Regions from separate parts of the Homo sapiens genome. Here region 1 is linked to region 2. The links come from fine-mapping of genetic effects on gene expression. Tissue or cell type: esophagus muscle. Region 2 holds a variant in brackets; the other region holds the start of a gene. All regions are shown on one strand. Distances are between the middles of the regions.

Evidence for each region. PIP is the estimated chance that this variant, and not a neighbour inherited with it, causes the effect.
Region 1: it holds the start of CLDN18, and the variant in region 2 is the best candidate, but not a certain one, in a credible set for the expression of CLDN18 in esophagus muscle (GTEx, PIP 0.51).

Annotation. Positions count from the first base shown.
Region 1 is chr3:138,007,797-138,015,114 of GRCh38, forward strand. CLDN18 (claudin 18) reads left to right here and starts at 2,369. Exons shown (of 5, transcript NM_016369.4): 1 at 2,369-2,649. The coding sequence starts at 2,430.
Region 2 is chr3:138,045,732-138,056,414 of GRCh38, forward strand. LOC105374128 (a long non-coding RNA gene) reads right to left here and starts at 10,029. Exons shown (of 2, transcript XR_001740930.2): 1 at 8,775-10,029; 2 at 1-3,597. RefSeq lists an enhancer at 1,292-1,945. The variant T/C (reference allele first, on the strand shown) is at 5,922.

The DNA of each region.
Region 1 (7,318 bases), 40 kb before region 2:
AACAGTTTTCAACCTAATTGGTCAATCTATGCCCACCAGCAGAAACCAGTGTCACTTCTAACTGTTCCCTTCCCTCCTTTTAGAATTGGCCTTGTAACAACTCAAGGGACACACTGCCATCAACATTCCTTCACTGTAGATCATGTAACTGTTGCTTACCCTCTTATTTTAGGCTTTCTGGCTCATGCTTCACTAGAAACACTGATCACAGAACCTAAAGTAAGGTGTGCAGTGAAGGGGAGTGTTGCCTCCATTCAAATTAGAGGTAGTTCTTCCCTATTTGCTTTCTGTGTTTGCTGGGAATAATGCAGTGGGAGCAGAGGCTGGGTGCACCCAAGATAACAAAATGTCCAGACACAGAGGCTCGTTTCCTGGAGAACCTGTAAAGACCTATAAAGGTTAAAGATTGGAGTATGTATGTGGGGGGGGAGTGTGGGGGTGTGTGGGGGTGTGTGTGGGTGTGTGTGTATGTTTCAGGGCCTTGAGGTCCAGATTTTGGAGAGTGTCATTAAAATGTCTCCGGAGGGCTGGGCACAGTGGCTCACGCCTGCAATCCTGGCACTTTGGGAGGCCGAGGCAGGCAGATCATTTGAGGTCAGGAGTTCGAGGCCAGCCTGACCAACATGGTGAAACCCCATCTCTACTAAAATACAAAAATTAGCTGGGTGTGGTGGCAGGCGCCTGTAATCTCAGCTAGTCAGGAGGCTGAGGCAGGAGAATCGCTTGAACCCAGGAGGTGGAGGTTGCAGTGAGCCAAGATTGCGCCACTGCACTCCAGCCTGGGCGACAGAGTGAGACTCCCTCTCAAAATAAATAAATAAATAAATAAAAACAAAATATATCTGGAAGCCAGGCACAGTGAGTCACGCCTGTAATCCCAGCACTTTGGGAAGCCAAGATAAGCAGATCACTTGAGCTCAGGAATTCGAGCCCAGCGTAAGCAACATGGTGAAACCCTGTCTCTACTAAAAACATAAAAATTAGCCGGGTGTGGTGGTATGCATGTATAGTTCCAAATACTCTGGAGGCTGAGGCATGAGAATTGCTTGAACCCAGGAGGCAGAATTTGCAGTGACCCCGATGACAACACTGCACTCCAGTCTGGGCAACAGAGCAAGACTCCATCTCAAAAAATTTTTAAAAAGTCTCTGGATTCAGAGGCCAGACATACCTGGCCCCCATATCCGTCAACCAATTCTCTAGCAAAATTTAGTTGTATAGACAAAACATAACACCTGATGTCTTCAGCCAAGTCTCTCTACTGTGATTATACAATTCCTAATATTTTGACCAATTCTAGTGAAAACTTTTCTGCAAAATGTAGAAGATAGTGTATGAGATCTGAAAAGGCTCTGGAGTGTTCTAGTTTAGATCTCACATGTTGTGGATGAAGAACCTGTGACCTACAAGGGCTTAGGAGTTTGCCCCCAACCTGCCCAGCACACGACAAGTTAGGGGCAGCATCAGGAGCAGATCCTAAGCCTCTCCGTGACCAGGCCAAGGACTTCAGCCCAGCTAACCCTGGTCCCTCCTCTGGCCTTTGTGGGACCTCCTGTGTCAGCCACAGAGTCCTCATGTGGTTCTTGTGGCACGAGTGAAAGCATGACATGGAAATCAACGGGGTCCCTGGCTTCCTCTCATCCCAGTTCCAATGCTTATGGACCAAGAGCATAGATCTAGGATTTGGCTTCGTGTTCTCAAAAGTGGGGACAATTTTGCCTGCCCCTGCTGCTCCATATGGAAACAGAGAAAGAGCGCTGGACTGGAAGCTGAGGTGGGAGCCCCACCCCTGCCGTTTTTAGAGTATCTGTGGTTCCAGGCACTGGGACAAGTCCCTTAACTTATCTGTACTTTTCTTGACTCACCCCCAAAAAATGGGGATAATAGTGCCTGCCCTACCCATTTCTGTAAGATCAAAATGGAAAGATGTAAGTGAAAAAAGTCGTTCATGAGTTGTGAGGAGAAAATGTGAAAAGTCTGGTTTAAGACAGAGCACGGTGGGTGCTTCCCAGGGGCCATCTTAAGCGAGGTCAGCCAAAGTGGTCTGCAGTCACGTTCCCCGTGGTGGGGACACGTCAGCCTTTTCTCCAGATGGCGGCGCTCTCCGGAGGAGCCGGAGCTGGAGGGAGGCCGGTCTGGCCCGGAGCAGGGAGTCCTTCTGCTCCCTGGCACGGCTCTGCGCTGAACCCACCCGGCCTGCGGAGAGCAGACAAGTGCCTCTTGGGCCCGCTTCTCTAACAAATGTAAAAATAATGCCCTTGAACCAGGAGCGAAACTGAGCTATCTAAGGAAAACACTGTGAGCAAATACTGAGAGCCTAGGGAAACCATCTGATTAGAAGAGCTCCCCTCAGGAGCGCGTTAGCTTCACACCTTCGGCAGCAGGAGGGCGGCAGCTTCTCGCAGGCGGCAGGGCGGGCGGCCAGGATCATGTCCACCACCACATGCCAAGTGGTGGCGTTCCTCCTGTCCATCCTGGGGCTGGCCGGCTGCATCGCGGCCACCGGGATGGACATGTGGAGCACCCAGGACCTGTACGACAACCCCGTCACCTCCGTGTTCCAGTACGAAGGGCTCTGGAGGAGCTGCGTGAGGCAGAGTTCAGGCTTCACCGAATGCAGGCCCTATTTCACCATCCTGGGACTTCCAGGTAGGCACCGTGCACCCCGGGGTAGAGCCAGGTGAACCAGGTGAGCAGGGAAGGGGGCGTTTGCGTTAAGCCCCACTCCCACCTCTGGGTGAGGACCCTGGCAGCTCTGGCTCAGAATGAAAGGTGTGAATAAAAGGAGAAGCTGGCTCGTGTCTAATAGGGCAACAGTCATGCAGGAGAAAATGGGAGGGTTAATACTCAAGGCGAAGGAATCGCTAGTGAGGAGGCAGGCCTCAAGAAGAATGGGTCTATTGTAAGGGTATGTTCATGATACCTGGAATAAACTCGTGTTTCTCAAGGAGAAAATAAATTGTGTGCATTACTTGCATGTGGCTTGCTCCTGCCTGCACATACATGGGAGCAGGGAAGCAGGATGCTGAGTATTTTGTTATATCTGGAAAAGTTTATTGAGAGCTAATTTAATTTTCTTTCCATTTCAATTAAATTTTTCAAAGTTGGAGTCTCTGTGGGTGCCAAAAAGAATATTGCCATTAAATTATAAATATCCTTTTGCTGCATTTGTATTAAGAATATCTTGTATACTGTCCTAAAAATCAATGTATATCAAAATATAATTACAGAATTATAATTATATTATGTCAGAATATAAATATAATTATAAATGTGACATCCTTTCACCCCTAAAGATGAAATAAATTAAACCCCTGCTTTTAATATAGATAATTACTTCAAATATGCATCATAGCAACTTTGCATTCTGAATAATATGGGAGCTCTATTTGTATTTTTAAAATGCAAACAAGAAAATAATAGCTCTAGCTAATTAGTGGCTCTAAGGGGTGGCCAAGATGTGAGTGTGATGGAGAAAGGAGAACAATGTCTCTGAAACAAATACCTTTTATAAACAAGTAGATGGAAATAAATTTGCAAGAAATTGTGAAGAGGCTGTAGAGCCCTTGAAACTGAATTGAATTGTGAAAAGCAATTCAACTAATCCAAGTTCATTTTCAGAAAGAAATAGAAGATGGGTGTCAGAGTAGAAGAATTTGATTATTTATTCCATTTTTTGGAAGCCACTTATTGCAGGACCAACAGGATGACTGACTCCGGGGAAAGACCTGCTTAGGGAAGCAAGGGAGGTAGAACCTGGCCAAAAGAAAGAGAACCAGACTGAGGAGGGATTATGCTGTAGTGGGAGGGGAGAGGTGAGATGCAGGAAATGCCACACAGAGTGTTGAGTTGCTAGTTATGTCTAATTTTAACTATCATATAAAGAAAAAATATTGTCCTCATATTCAAAATTAAGGCATGATGTCTTATGACTTCATGTTCAATAACCTCTCCCCAGGGCCCCACTACATATTATCAATCTCTTGCTCACTGTGTATCACAGTCTCCATACATGGGGCTCCTGAATATTCCCACTCTCCTAAATGGGCAAACCCCATTGCGTCCACTGTGACTTGTCACTCCTATTCTGTCAACGGATCTTATCTCCATGACACCCTCTCAGAATAGCTCCACCTCTCCCCCTTGATGGAACAAGATTATCTTCCCTGCTTTCCTGCTAAGGTCAACCTCTCCTGCTAAGGTCAACCTCCCCAGCAGGGCTCTGAAGGCCTCATGCCACCTGTCTGGGATCATGCCCTGTTGGTCAGCCCCTCTCCTCCTTGCCTCTTTCATCTCTTCTCCTCACTTATGCATATGGCCTCCTTCCTGGGGAAATCTGTTGATCCTGATCATTGTCAAGTTCTGTCTCTCTCCTGGGTCACTGACAAACCAAATTAAAAGACTAAGTTTTTCCACTACCTCTCACCCTTAACCTTTCTCAGTCTGGTTTCTATCCTTCATCTCTATAGAATGTTTGCTTTTTTGACCATAGCAGAGGATGAAGGGGAGTATTTCAGTCACCAACTCCTAGTTCTCAGTTCTCATCTCCTTAGACATTTCAAAACCCAAACAACTTCCACGGTTCCCCATTCCCAGCTTAACTAGGTGCACACATAACAGCCTGACACCAAGCCTTCCTAACCCCTCACCTACCTTCCTTGGCAGTCTCTTACTCCCCCATCCTGTTTCTTCTGTCCTTTCAGTATACCTTGGACTTGGTCCTGGACATCCATTGCTCCTGCTCCCCTGAATTCCCCCCTCCACCACCCCAACTGTCCTCTCACAAATCTTCCTCCAAACCTCCTCAAGCCCCCAAATTGAATAAAGATTCCACAAGTCTCTGTACCAAACCCAGAGCATTCTCATAGCATTGAGCATATTCACCCCGCGTGACACTGCTCTCAAATCTGAGAAGCATTTATTGCATACCTACAAAGAGTACACAACACAAAACTGGCCTTGTCGGCACCGTAAATTCCAGCAGAGGGGACAGGCATGTGTGTGAATATCAAAGCAAAGGCAACACATGTCATGGGGCTTTGACACAAGTGTTTGGAGCCCAGGAAGAAAGTGGTTATTCAGTAGGAAGAGTCAGGAGGGGAGGAAATCAGGACAGTTTTGCTAAGGGAGTTCTGTTTGAGTCTGAACTTTAGCTTACTAACTTGGTTATTTGTACATTTGTGTCATTCAGCTTCTATGTGGTGTTTCCCTTCAGCTGGATAAGAATTATTTCCCCATTTCCCAGAAAAGCGCCTGGTAGAGTGAGTATTTAGCAAAGGATTGATAAACTAAGTTGAATTAAATAGTACGAATAGTTCATTTTAAGTGTTTATGCAAGCCATTGAACTAAAAACAGGTTAAGGTCTTCCCCAAAAAGGACAGTAAATCATTTTTGTACTATAAATTTTTTGTTATTATGGCTCCATATATAGAAAAGGACCTGGTCCTCCTCCTGCCTGGAACAGATTCATTTGTTCATCCAATCATGTATTTAACAAATATCTCTTGCATGCCTACTGTGTTGCAGAGACTAGAGTTCAGGAACTCTATTAGTCAGAGTAGTTAATGTCTGCTGCTGCAACAAACAAACCTAAACATCTCAATGGCTTGACACAACAAAAGTTTACTTCCTGCCCACATAAAGTCCACTGTGGGAAGAGCAGCCTCCTTGTAGCTACACTCTTCAAAGTTGCTGGGGCAAGAGAAGAAAGGCTTGAAGGAGGCACAACAGTTCTTAACTGCTTCAATCTGAAAGGAACACATGTCACTCACAGTGCGTTGGCCACAACTAGCCATATGGCCCCAGGAGCTGGGAGATGTAGGAGCACATAGCTATTGGGTGAGCACCTACTGTCTCTACCACAGGGAGCATTTGAGTAGTAACTTCCTGGGCTGCAACACATCAACCACACTAATTTCAGTTCTGCCAGACAGATAATTCCCTGAACATCAAATAGTCAAAACCAATGAGATTGCAAAAGAAGATATACCATTAATTTATATTTAAACAAATATGATAGAATTATATGTGTAAACTATCATCTGACACAAGATAATATATAGCGTGTAATTTCAGAGCTAGACATTTTGGTGGGGATGGCCTGGAATCAGGAAAGAGGAGGGGTTTAAGGTAAATTTCTGCAATGTAAAAATTCCCTAACATTTAATAACAGAGGAATGTAAATATGGCCATGGGGGTGGGGGCGGAAAGCACATTTTTTTCAAAAAGTAAGGAGGAAGAAAGGAACAGTGGGTGAGGGAGAGAGGGAGGGAAGGTGAGAAGGAAGAAAGTAGAGAGGAAGAGAGGGAGGAAGAGAGGTGGGAGAATTGGTGATGCTAGGTACTTTTATTCCGTGTCAGGCCAGACAAAGAGCTCTTAGAGAGAGAAGCCAGTTGCCACTCATGGAACCCTGAGATGTTTCAGACCCACGAAAGGAGAGGTCCTTGGCTCTCTGAGAAGGATTTTAGGGAAGCTGGAAGAAATGACTTTCCTCAAATCCCAGCTGGAGGACAGCAAATGTGAATGTCAGGGCCAGTAGCCATGCACTGAGGGCTCTTGGAAACTGTTGGTCACAACACCATCTATTGGTAAGCTCTGTCGGTGGTAAGATTGTGGCCAGAGGACTCTGATGTGCCCGTCTTGCATCTCCTACAAAACCCAGCATGGCACACAACAAGCATAGGGGGCTGGGGGAGGGGGAAGTCGGTGCTGCTCTGTGTCCTGTCTCCCAATTGTGCTGTGAAAAACCAAGCTGGACTGAACCACCATGGGAACTGGGGGATAGTTCCCAGCAGCCACCACAGAAGTATACCCCAGTTCTGCCTATCTGAGTTGAGGGAAGAGGATTTCACCAAAAGCCAGAAAAAAACACTTCTTGGGATTGAGTTTGCAGAAAAGGAGGTACTTGAAATCACTGAAAATCTGTGGCCTTCAAGAAGACTGTGGACTTAAAAGCAGACAGTCCTCATGCAGCAGGAGTGGCTACACTACAAATTGGCACCCCAAAATACAAATATCTATTTGATGACTTAGATAAGGAATGGGCAGGAGCTGGGAGTGGTGACTTACCCCTGTAATCCCATCACTTTGGGAGGCTGAGGTGGGAGGATTGCTTGAGGCCAGGAGTTCAAGACCAGCCTGGGCAACAAAATGAGATCCCATCTCTACAGTAACAAAATTTTTTAAAACTAGCTGGGCACAGTGGTGTATGCCAGTAATCCCAGCTACTCAGGAGGCTGTGGCAGGAAAATCACTGGAGCTGGAGTTAGAAGCTGCAGTGAACTGTGATCATGCCACTGCACTCCATCCTGGGCAACA
Region 2 (10,683 bases):
ATCATGTGTAGGTCCAACTCCCACAGAAATATCCACTGTATCATGTGGGTTTTGTGGACTTGGAAAACATAAGGAATGAGCAACGTCCTGGGAAGTCCCATCTCGTGAGAAGAAAAGTGAAAAAGAACAAGTTTGAGTAGGGATGAGGGATACTTCTATTGTCCTCTAAGCTAGTGTGCATAGATTCATGTCTGAGTTCCAGGGCATACACATTGCAAAAAGTAGTTTAAAAAATTTATATATATATGTGGCTATTTCACTAAAATCTCTGTGGTGTAGTGAAAGGTGCTAGTAGCTTTGGTGCCATGACCTGGCCATGTCAGGAGACCAAAGGAAGCTTCCTGAGGAGGGAGTTTTTGAATATCAGGTACTAAATGCACACAAAAGTGTTCCTTTTTGGAGCCAGGGACAACAAATTGTTTGATCTTAAATGCCAACTCAGGCCAATCCCAACTGACTATGCTGAGAAGGACTCAGGAATGGAAGATTATCATGATCAAGTGGCAATGCCTGTCATAGGACTGACTGGGAACCAGCAGTACACATGCCACATGTTTGCCCTCTTGAATTCCTTTCTGAGATGGACCCCGGCCAAACACTCCCTGCATCAGTGAAGACGCATTCACTCTAACACCCCATGTTACATATTCAAAAATCTTACATTTTATTTTCTCTACTCTTAAGCAAGGATATACATACAAAAGTGCACTGTCTCTAACCAATCTAATCGTTGTTGAATAATCCCCCAAACCCAGGAGCTGTTCTTGTCACATTTATTGTCCCTTGTGCTTCAGGGTACTTGACAATCCTCAACTACTGCTGTTCCTTGAAGAGCAACAGCACTCCACCTAGTAAATTTTACTTCAGAATGTTAGTACTATTGTTATTTTTAGCATTATTTTTGTCTGTCTGCCTCATCCTAAAGATTGTAACCATGAGTAGCTTTGACATGCTTCAAAACTTCTTTTGTTCTTCCAGGGAGCTTTTGGAGAGGGTCCCACTTCATGATGTCCGTATGAAACAAGGTCATGGAGAATCCTTTGAATTTACTTCCACAAATATTTCTTTGAGTACCTATTTTGTGCCAGGTGCCACAACATGTATAAAGATGAATAAGGAAGAAAAGAGAAGGATCATTTGTCGAGATTCTGGTCTGCTATGCAATGTGCTGATGCCATTCTGGGGACTTGGAAGCATTCATCTCATTCCATTCCCATAACTACCTCCCAAAGCATCTTTATCACAGTTACAGCTGAGGAAACTGAGGCTTGGGGAGGTTACCTGACTTGCCCAGTCATTCATCTAGTAGTTACTGGTGCTAGGATCTGAATCATGTCTGTCTGACTCAAAGCCCATGTTTCAATTCTCCTGACATGAGACCAATTGAGAAGTATGGTTCACAAGCTGGGGAGGGTGTCTTGGGAAATTTTGAGGCGGGGCACTTCCTAGCCCAGCGTGTGAAAGCAGGCCAGTTACTAACCTGTCTTAGCCTCAGCAGCCCAGTCAACAGAGGCCAATACCTACCTTGCAAGGTTGTTGTGAGGATTAAAGATAATGGGTAAAGCATCCAGCACACAGTATGTGGTCTATGAAGAATAGCTATGTTATTCAGAGCTACGTAAAAAATTACCATTTCTCAAAGAGGCAGGAGCTATTTTCTGATACAGTGAATTCTTGGAACTTGCAACGGGTGTGTATTATGAAATTTAGGATCTAAGCTAGCAAGACTTTGCTATACGGCTTTGAGAAGGTATATGGTTGTCGCAAAAATCTCAGGAGACTCTGCAAGATAAGAAAATCTCAAAGCAGAGGCAAGTTCAGAGACTTGCTTTCCTACTCCTGAATCTTCATTCAGCTGAGCTAATGGCCAGGAATGACAAGAGGACTCACCATTGTTTGAGCCTGCCTGTGAATTTGCATAAAATGTGATTTAAAACAAAAACATAACCAAGGATCTGGCCCCCAGGAATAGTCAAGGTATCTGCAGTGAGTAGAAGACTATTATTTATACTGCCTGGAATCCCACCACAAATCTTTACAGAAACGCACAAACTCACATTGGATCAGGCTTTTGTTGGTCTCCAGGGAATGCTGACTTTGTTTATTAATGCCACAACAAACGTGTCTCTGAATAAGGGAACTGACAGGACACCCGTCTCTGCATTGAAACCTGATTAAAAGCAAGTCCAGCCCCTTCTAGTCTCTCAGGAGTCTTCACAGTTTCTAAGCTGTCCTTTGTGAGTCAGTGATGTCGATGGCAGGAAAACTCCATCCTTGTTTCTTTGGGTGATAATCCACACATCACAGCATGAATACTCAAGCTCTCACACGAAGCAATGGTCTGCCTCCCAAATAGAAAGAAGGAGAGTTGCCTAAGTGGAAGGACTTGATAGGAGCTGAAAATGCAGCCCCATGACACCCAGTCCTCCTCTAATAAAGGTTTTTCCCTATCTCCTGTCACTGATGCTGCAAATTCTACTCTGGAGGCAGAGTGGCATCGGCAGGCAGCACTTCCTGAACCTTTCCATGAAAGGGACCCTTAAACACAGGGGAACTGTGGGGATAGTTGCACATTATGAATATACTGAAAACTACTGAATTGTATACCTTAACGTGCTGAAGTTATATTATATTAATTATATGTTAATAATGATAATAAATTTTTTAAAAATACATAGAGGAAATAGCCTATGTCCTTGCAAGGCCAGCAGGACCAGGACTCAAGTGGACAGCTCTAAGTATGAAGTATTGTGCATGTTGCATTCTGCTTCAAAATACATCTATATCTGTTGTAACTGTTTAAAGATAAAGTTATTTCCCAGTTAAAATGCTTAATTTTATCCCCTCAGATATTCAAATAAAATTGATACCCCAGGTGGACGTGCCTTAGATGGAGAACCCTGTGGCAGCACCACTCACTTGTGGCTTGAGAAACACAAAGGGGAGGTGGGCTTACCAGGGTGAGATCCCAAGGTGTGGATCCCAGAGTACGAATCCCACGATGTGCATCCTAGGGTATGGGTGCCTAAAATGGTGCTGAAGGTCTGACTTAGGGTGACTCTCACTCACATTTTTCACAGAATAAGTTCAGAACTCTGGGCTATCAAAAGCCCATTGTCACATGTGTGGACCCATGCATCCACTCTCACCCTTCCATGTTCTGTTCACAGTGCTGCCTCAGGTCTATGACATCCAATGGCAGCAGGCATCGTTCACCTTGTGCGTGCCCAACTCTGACTCCCAGGGCAGTCTCCCCACACCTCACGGGCTTCATGCCACATATGAAGCAGGCCTCTGGGGGTGGTCTCAGCCATAGCCTCCGAGAGCCTTCGAGACTGTTGCTCTGCAACACCAGTGGTCCCTTCCAACCAATGTCCTTTCTTGCCTCCAGCTGACATGGTGACATCATGCTCTCCAGCTTCAGTTTTAAGCCATGGTGGAAAATGTTTGGGCATGCCTTGCACAATGGACATATCTTGCTCTTCTCACTCCATCCACAGGCCTTTTGCCTAGCCGGCCTGCAGATGGCTGTGTGTGGAAGGCAGGGGTATGTCAACATTGAAAGAAATCACATTCTAGGAATGTGGGGGTTAAGGCCTAAAAAGTCAAAGAGAAGACATGATTGGTAGATGTGTCATGCTACATTTACATTATGAAATTTCAAATGGCAAATTTAACAAGACCAGAACATTATCATTCAGATTCTCTGCATACTCTGGGTAGGATTTGTATTTGGTCTCAACAACAAAGCACAGCAACAAGATTAGAGGGAGTTGCTGGAAGCCAACATCCACAGGAGGCTGACATGTGACTCAACATCGCAAGTAAGCAATGATGTCACCAGCATGACATGTGAAGCCCAAATGCACCTAGATCTACTAATCTGGGGGTCCTAGGTAAGGTGACGTTCCCTGCCGAAGGGCCCAGAGTGCCCCACATAGCAACAGAGCTGTCACCTGCACCCTCCGCGCTCATCCTCCCTGTGCTCTGTGATCTACTGCCCCCTGCAGACCTCCCTGGACACACCTCATCCCTCTCCTCTCTCAAGTCCAGACTACCATTTTCTGGCTTCTTCCAGGCCACCCTCAAACCACCATCTACGCCCACTGCAGATCTGCAAACACCCCCTGCCTCCGTCTCCCAGAACAGGGCTGCCTTCTCCTTCTAAGACCCAGTTCTGTCGCAGAGCTGTGTGGGCCCCTAATGATATAGCAGCGAACCCCATAATTCCTGAAGGGCTTTTTCAAAAGTCATTTTGTTTCTGCTATACATTAGCCACAAAAGAACTAATTCTAAAGCAAAAAAAAAAAAAAAAAAAGACAATTATGTGAAAAACGGCTCGGAACCATGAAATAGATGCTGATTATAAATATAGGCTTCAGGCATTATGAAATGAGGCAGCTCTAAATTTTCAAAGAACAAAGAAAAAGCAAGAGGATTTTCTAAATATCAAAAAGACTTTCAGGTTATAATTAGTAAATTGACTAACCTTTTTAAAGGTACAAGTAAATTTCTAAAGCCTGCAGCATTCATGGAATTATATATGCTGTAAGTCTAGGGGACTGACTCTGCCAGCCTCCTCACTTCACAGATGAGAAAACAAAAGGTTCCATGACTTTCCCAAGGTCATAAAACAAGTTTGTGGCTGCTAGAATTTTAATTGGAGCTCCTGTCCTCCATCTTCAGTTTCTTTCACCCATTCTACAATGGAAGCTACTTTCACAAATAGGCAACAACGTTCAGATTACTTGCATAAATATATGGAGATGGTGTTTGTGGAGGTGGTGGTAGTGATGGTGGTGGTGGTAAGAGGGTGGTAATAATGGTAATAGGGGTAGTAGAGGTGGTGGTAATAGCTGTGGTGGTGGAGGTGGAAGTGGTTGTGGTGGAGGTGGTGGTAGAGGTAGTGATGGTGGTAATGGAGTGATGGTAGTGATGGTGGTAGATGTGGAGGTGTTAGTGGTAGTGGTGGAGGTGGTTGTGGTAGTGGTGGTGGTTGTGGTGGTGGTAGAGGTAGTGATGGTGATAATGGAGTGATGGTAGTGATGGTGGTAGATGTGGAGGTGGAAGTGGTTGTGGTGGAGGTGGTGGTTGTGGTGGTGGTAGAGGTGGTGATGGTGGTAATGGAGTGATGGTAGTGATGGTGGTAGATGTGGAGGTGTTAGTGGTAGTGGTGGAGGTGGTTGTGGTAGTGGTGGTGGTTGTGGTGGTGGTAGAGGTAGTGATGGTGATAATGGAGTGATGGTAGTGATGGTGGTAGATGTGGAGGTGGAAGTGGTTGTGGTGGAGGTGGTGGTTGTGGTGGTGGTAGAGGTAGTGATGGTGGTAATGGAGTGATGGTAGTGATGGTGGTAGATGTGGAGGTGTTAGTGGTAGTGGTGGAGGTGGTGGTTGTGGTGGTGGTGGTGGTAGTGAAATGATGGTAGTGATGGTGGAGGTGGAGGTGGTAGTGGAGGTGATGGTGGTGGTAGAGGTGGTGATCGTGGTAATGGAGTGATGGTAGTGATGGTGGTGGTGGAGGTGGAGGTGGTAGTGGTGGAGGTGGTGGTTGTGGTGGTGGTAGAGGTGGTGATGGTGGTAGTGGAGTGATGGTAGTGATGGTGGTGGATGTGGAGGTGGAGGAGGTAGTGGTGGTGATGATGGTGGTGGAGGTGGAGGTGGTAGTGATGATGGCAGAGATAATGAAAATTGCAGTGGGGCCAGGCACAGTGGTGCACACCTATAATCCTAGCACCTTGGGAAGCTCAGATGGGAGGATTACTTGACCCCAGGAGTTCAAGACCAGCCTGGGCAACATAGGGAGACCCCCATCTCTATAAAAAATAAAAAGTTATCTGGATCTGTGGTCCCTGCTACTCAGGAGGCTGGGGCAGGAGGAGGATCTCTTGAGCCTGGGAGGTTGAGGCTGCAGTGAGCTGTGA[T/C]TGCACTACCGCACTCTAGCCTGGGTAACAGAGCAAGACCCTGTTTCAAAAAAAAAAGGAAAGAAAAGAAAAGAAAGAAAGAAAATAAATAGTGGTGGTATGCATATGTGCTGGGAAGTTGAGGAGTGAGGAATAGTTCAAGGGCAGTTCAAGGGCATGTCAGCCAAAGCTCAGATTCAGTTAAGAGTGAATATATATAAGAAACTGGCAGAATGAGGAAAAGGATTCAGCCGGTATAGACAAATCAATTAGATGTATCCACAAACAAAATGACAGAAATGGTACAGCAGCTGAGGAAGCAACAGGGTCATAAGGACCTTTCAGTGTGGGATTGCCATGCATGCTGGATATTTCCAGGCTGCGGAAAAGCTCCTAATAGTGAGGCTCCTTGAGTGCAGGTACAGGTTGTGAAACCCATCAATATTTGTTGATTGCCTTTTCTGTGCAAGGACCTCAGCTGGGCCGTGGCAACACAAGGGTATGCAGGAAAGCAAGAGAGGCCATACCCTGTCCTGCTCCATTTTCTATCTTTAAATGTTGGGGGTTTTGTGTTTTGTTTTGTTTTTTAATCACGGGAGAGTTGCCTGGATGAATAAGACAATTCATCAAGTCCTGCCAAACCATGAGTGGTGGTGCAGGCTGGAGGAGCCCCACTTATTTCTTACAGTGAAGTTAGCCTGTCATTAAAAAGTGCCTGTGTAGCCATTCACTTTGTGGCCCACAGTGCCACCGTGTGGAAGGCACCTGTTGGCTGGACATGCACAAAATAAAACCGAAGCAGTGGCAGCTTTTAAACCAGCCCATCACCTTCACTCGGGGAACCCAAAGCACTCCCTCCATGTGACTATTATGCTCAATTTACCAAAGAAAAGGCCGTTGGATCTGTGGGTTCAATGAACCCTTAGTGATCAGCTATGTGGTCTAAGTTCTCACTGATCTCCTCTCTAAGATCCCTGATTGAGGTCAGAATCGCAGAATCAATGGGCACTTCTCTATTCTTTCATACCAATCATTTGATCCATTGCACTGATAGTTTATTGAGTACAAAATGCAGCTTCCTCTTCCACAAAAGCCTAACAATGGTCAGCTATTGCCAATGGAAGAACAATTCAGCTCATCCCATCTTTTCTGGATCAGGTCCTTATATTACCCCCGCCGCCCCCAAGCTTTACTTAAAGTCCTCTCTATCCCTTTGAAACATTTTTCTTTCTGGCTCCCTGCTTAGGTTAGCTCTTCTCGCTTGTCTTGTCATTAGGTGGAATAATACATGAAGACACTCCTGGCACAATTACTGCCTTGGAATTGGCCCAGTTCAGCTTATCAGATGATGAGTGTCTGCTATGGGCAGATGCAAGTGATATAAGCATCAGAGACACCTCCTTCCCAAAGAACTTAACACATGTTAGTGTCTCCACTGGCAGCTCTGTTTTCTGTCGACTATGCTAAACGTTGAGCCTGCATCTTTACATCCAGCAGGGAGATAGGCTTGCAACCTTTTGTAACAGACACAAGCATGAACACAGATGTAGAGAAGGCCACACAGGTGCAGGACAATTCCTTCCACATCCTTTCCACCTAAGCCTGGAGAGGACTTAGCGGACCTTCGCAGCTCCCCTCAGAAACTGGCAGTGAGGCCAAGCACGGTGGCTCACACCTGTAATCCCAGCACTTTGGGAGGCCGAGGCAGGTGGATCACCTGAAGTCAGGAGTTCGAGACCAGCCTGGCCAGCATGGTAAAACCCCATCTCTACTAAAAATACAAAAATTAACTGGGCATGGTGGCGCATGCCTGTAATCCTAGCTACTCAGGAGGCTGAGGCAGGAGAATCACTTGAACACAGGAGGCAGAAGTTGCAGTCAGCCGAGATCAGGCCACTGCACTCCAGCCTGTGCAACAGAGTGAGACTCCATCTCAAAAAAAAAAAAAAAAGAAAGAAAGAAAGAAAGAAGAAACTGGCAATGAGAGACACGGGGAAGAGAAGAAAAGTGCAGAATCACACTTGATGCTCTGTTGATTTTAGAGGTTACTTTACTTAGATTCCCTAAAAGCCTAGAATTTGGTTATAGCATGTGAGTCAGCTTATTATAAATATGTAATTCACTTTGGATTTTCTAAAGCTGAAAATGGTCTTCATCTTTATCTCAGTTACACACCACTACTAGGTTCCAGCCACAAGACCAGAGCATCTTCTACTTCCTAAATTGTGGGCTCAGGTTTTCAGGTGATAAAAACCTTTTTCAGGTTGTCACTATAAACCTATTATATATTTCCAATCAATGTTATCCCTATATGTATAAGTTCAGGACATTCTTCAGTTTACCTCAGAAAATATAGCTAATTAAATTTTCCCTTTTTATATTGAACCATGCAGTCATGGAAGGGAAGAGCTGGTATGGTCCAAAGACACAAACCAGTGCAGCAGCTCCCAAGTGCTAGGCTGTGGGCCAGAGCTGGTCCATTGCTAAATTTTCATTTGTCTAAGACAAAGTATGAGGCCAATTGTCCATTCTTGGAGAGTCTTATCTTCTTACTCTTCTGGTATTAAAGTGTCCTTTATAAAATGATGGTGATTGTTGCATACTTTATTTTATGTGCTGACTTGGCAAAATAAAAGTTAGCAACCTTGGATCAACTGCAAAACTTTTTGTTAACAGCCTATAGCACAATGCTACCTCACACTACCAGGGACTATACTCCTGCATTACAGAGAACTAGCCTAATGAGAATCCAGAACAGGAAGAATTGCGAGAAATGAGACTTTCTGCTTAGAAGTATTCAGAAGATGCCCACAACTAAGGTTCAAGACTCAACTTCAAAGAAGATTTCTAATTAGAATTCATGAAGGCACCTACCCATCAGAGCATTCCATGCGTTCATCCATATGTGGAGATTGGGATGGCCTCACAAGAATGTGATGTGATTTCAAATTTGAAAAATAGCCAATATAAAATTCTAAAAGAGAAAAATAATCAGAGTATCTGTGTCTTGCAAGATGGTAAAACATATGATAAAATTTCCATGACTAAGAATAGCTCACTGTTAGAACCAATAAATGGATTCAGCAAAGTTAAAGGATACAAAATCAACACACAAAAATCAGTTGCATTTCTATACATTAATAATGAACAATCTGAAAAAGAAATTAAGAAAACAATCCCACTTATAATAACATCAAAAAGAATAAGATAATAATACACCAAATCAAGCAAACAAAAGATTTGTACACTAAAAACTTCAAAACATTGCTGGAAAAAATTAAAGAAGACACCAATAAATGGAAACACATCATGTGATCATGGATTGAAAGACTTAGTATTGTTAAGATGTAAATACTACCCAAAATAATCTACAAATGTGATGCAATCTCTATCAAAATCCCAACATTTTTTGCAGGAATAGCAAAATCTATCCTAAAATTCATATGGAATCTCAAGGGACCCTGAATAGCCAAAACAATCTTGAAAAAGGAAAACAAAAGTGAAGGTCTCATGCTTCCTGATTTCAAAATTTATGACAAAGCTATAATAATCAAAATAGTGTAGTACTAGTATAAAGACAGACATGTAGACCCATGGAGTAGAATAGAGACCCCAGAAATAAAAATTGCATATATGGTCACATGATTTTCAACAAGGGTGTTAAGACCATTCAATGGGAAAAGGACAGTCTCTTCAACACATGGTGTTAGGAACACTTGATATCCATGTCCGGAATAGCGAAATTTGACCTCCCCCCTCCCCACCTTATAACATATACAAAATTTAACTGGATCAAAGACCTAAATATAAGACCTAAAGCTATAAAACTCTTGGAAGAAAAGATAGGGAGAAATATTCACAACATTGGATTTGGCAAGGATTTCTTGGAGATGACACCAAAACACAGGCAATAAAAGTAAAAATAGATAAACGTGACTACATAAAAATTGAAAATTCTGCATCAAAACACAAAATGAACAGAGTAAAAGGCAACCTATAAAATGAGAGAAAACCATTTGCAAATCATATCTAACCCCACAATATATAAAGCTCCTATAACTCAACAACAAAAAACCCAAATAACCCAATTTTAAAATAAGCAAAGGACTTGGATAAACATCTCTTCAAAGAAGATACACAAATGGCCAACAAGCATATAAAAAGATGCTCAACATCACAAATCATTAGGGAAATGCAAATCAAAACTGCAATGAGATATTATTTCACATCCATTAGGATGGCTGATATTTTTTTAAAAACAGAAAATAACAAGTGTCAGCAAAGATGGGGAGAAATAGGAACATTTGTGCATTGTCAGTGGGAAAATAAAATGGAAAACAGTATACAGGTTCCTGAAAAATAAAAAAATAGACTATATGATTACTATATGATCCAGTAATTCCACTCTGGGTATATATCCAAAAAAGTTAAAAATAGGATCCTGGAGAAATATTTGCACAGCTGTGTTTATAGCAGCACTGTTCACAATAGTCAAGATGTGGGAGCAACCCAAGTGTCAACAGACAAATGGATTCTTTAATGATATATATTCATACAATGGAATATTATTTAATCTTAAAAAGGAAATTGTGACACACACTGCAACATGGATAAACCTTGATGACATTATGCTAAGTGAAATAAGATAGTCACAAAAAGACAAATACTGTATGATACTACCATACATGGTACTTAGAGTAGTCAAAATCATAGAAATAGAAAGTAGAATGGTGGTTGCCTGCAACTGGGTGGGGGGAGATAGGGAATTGTTTAATGGGTATAA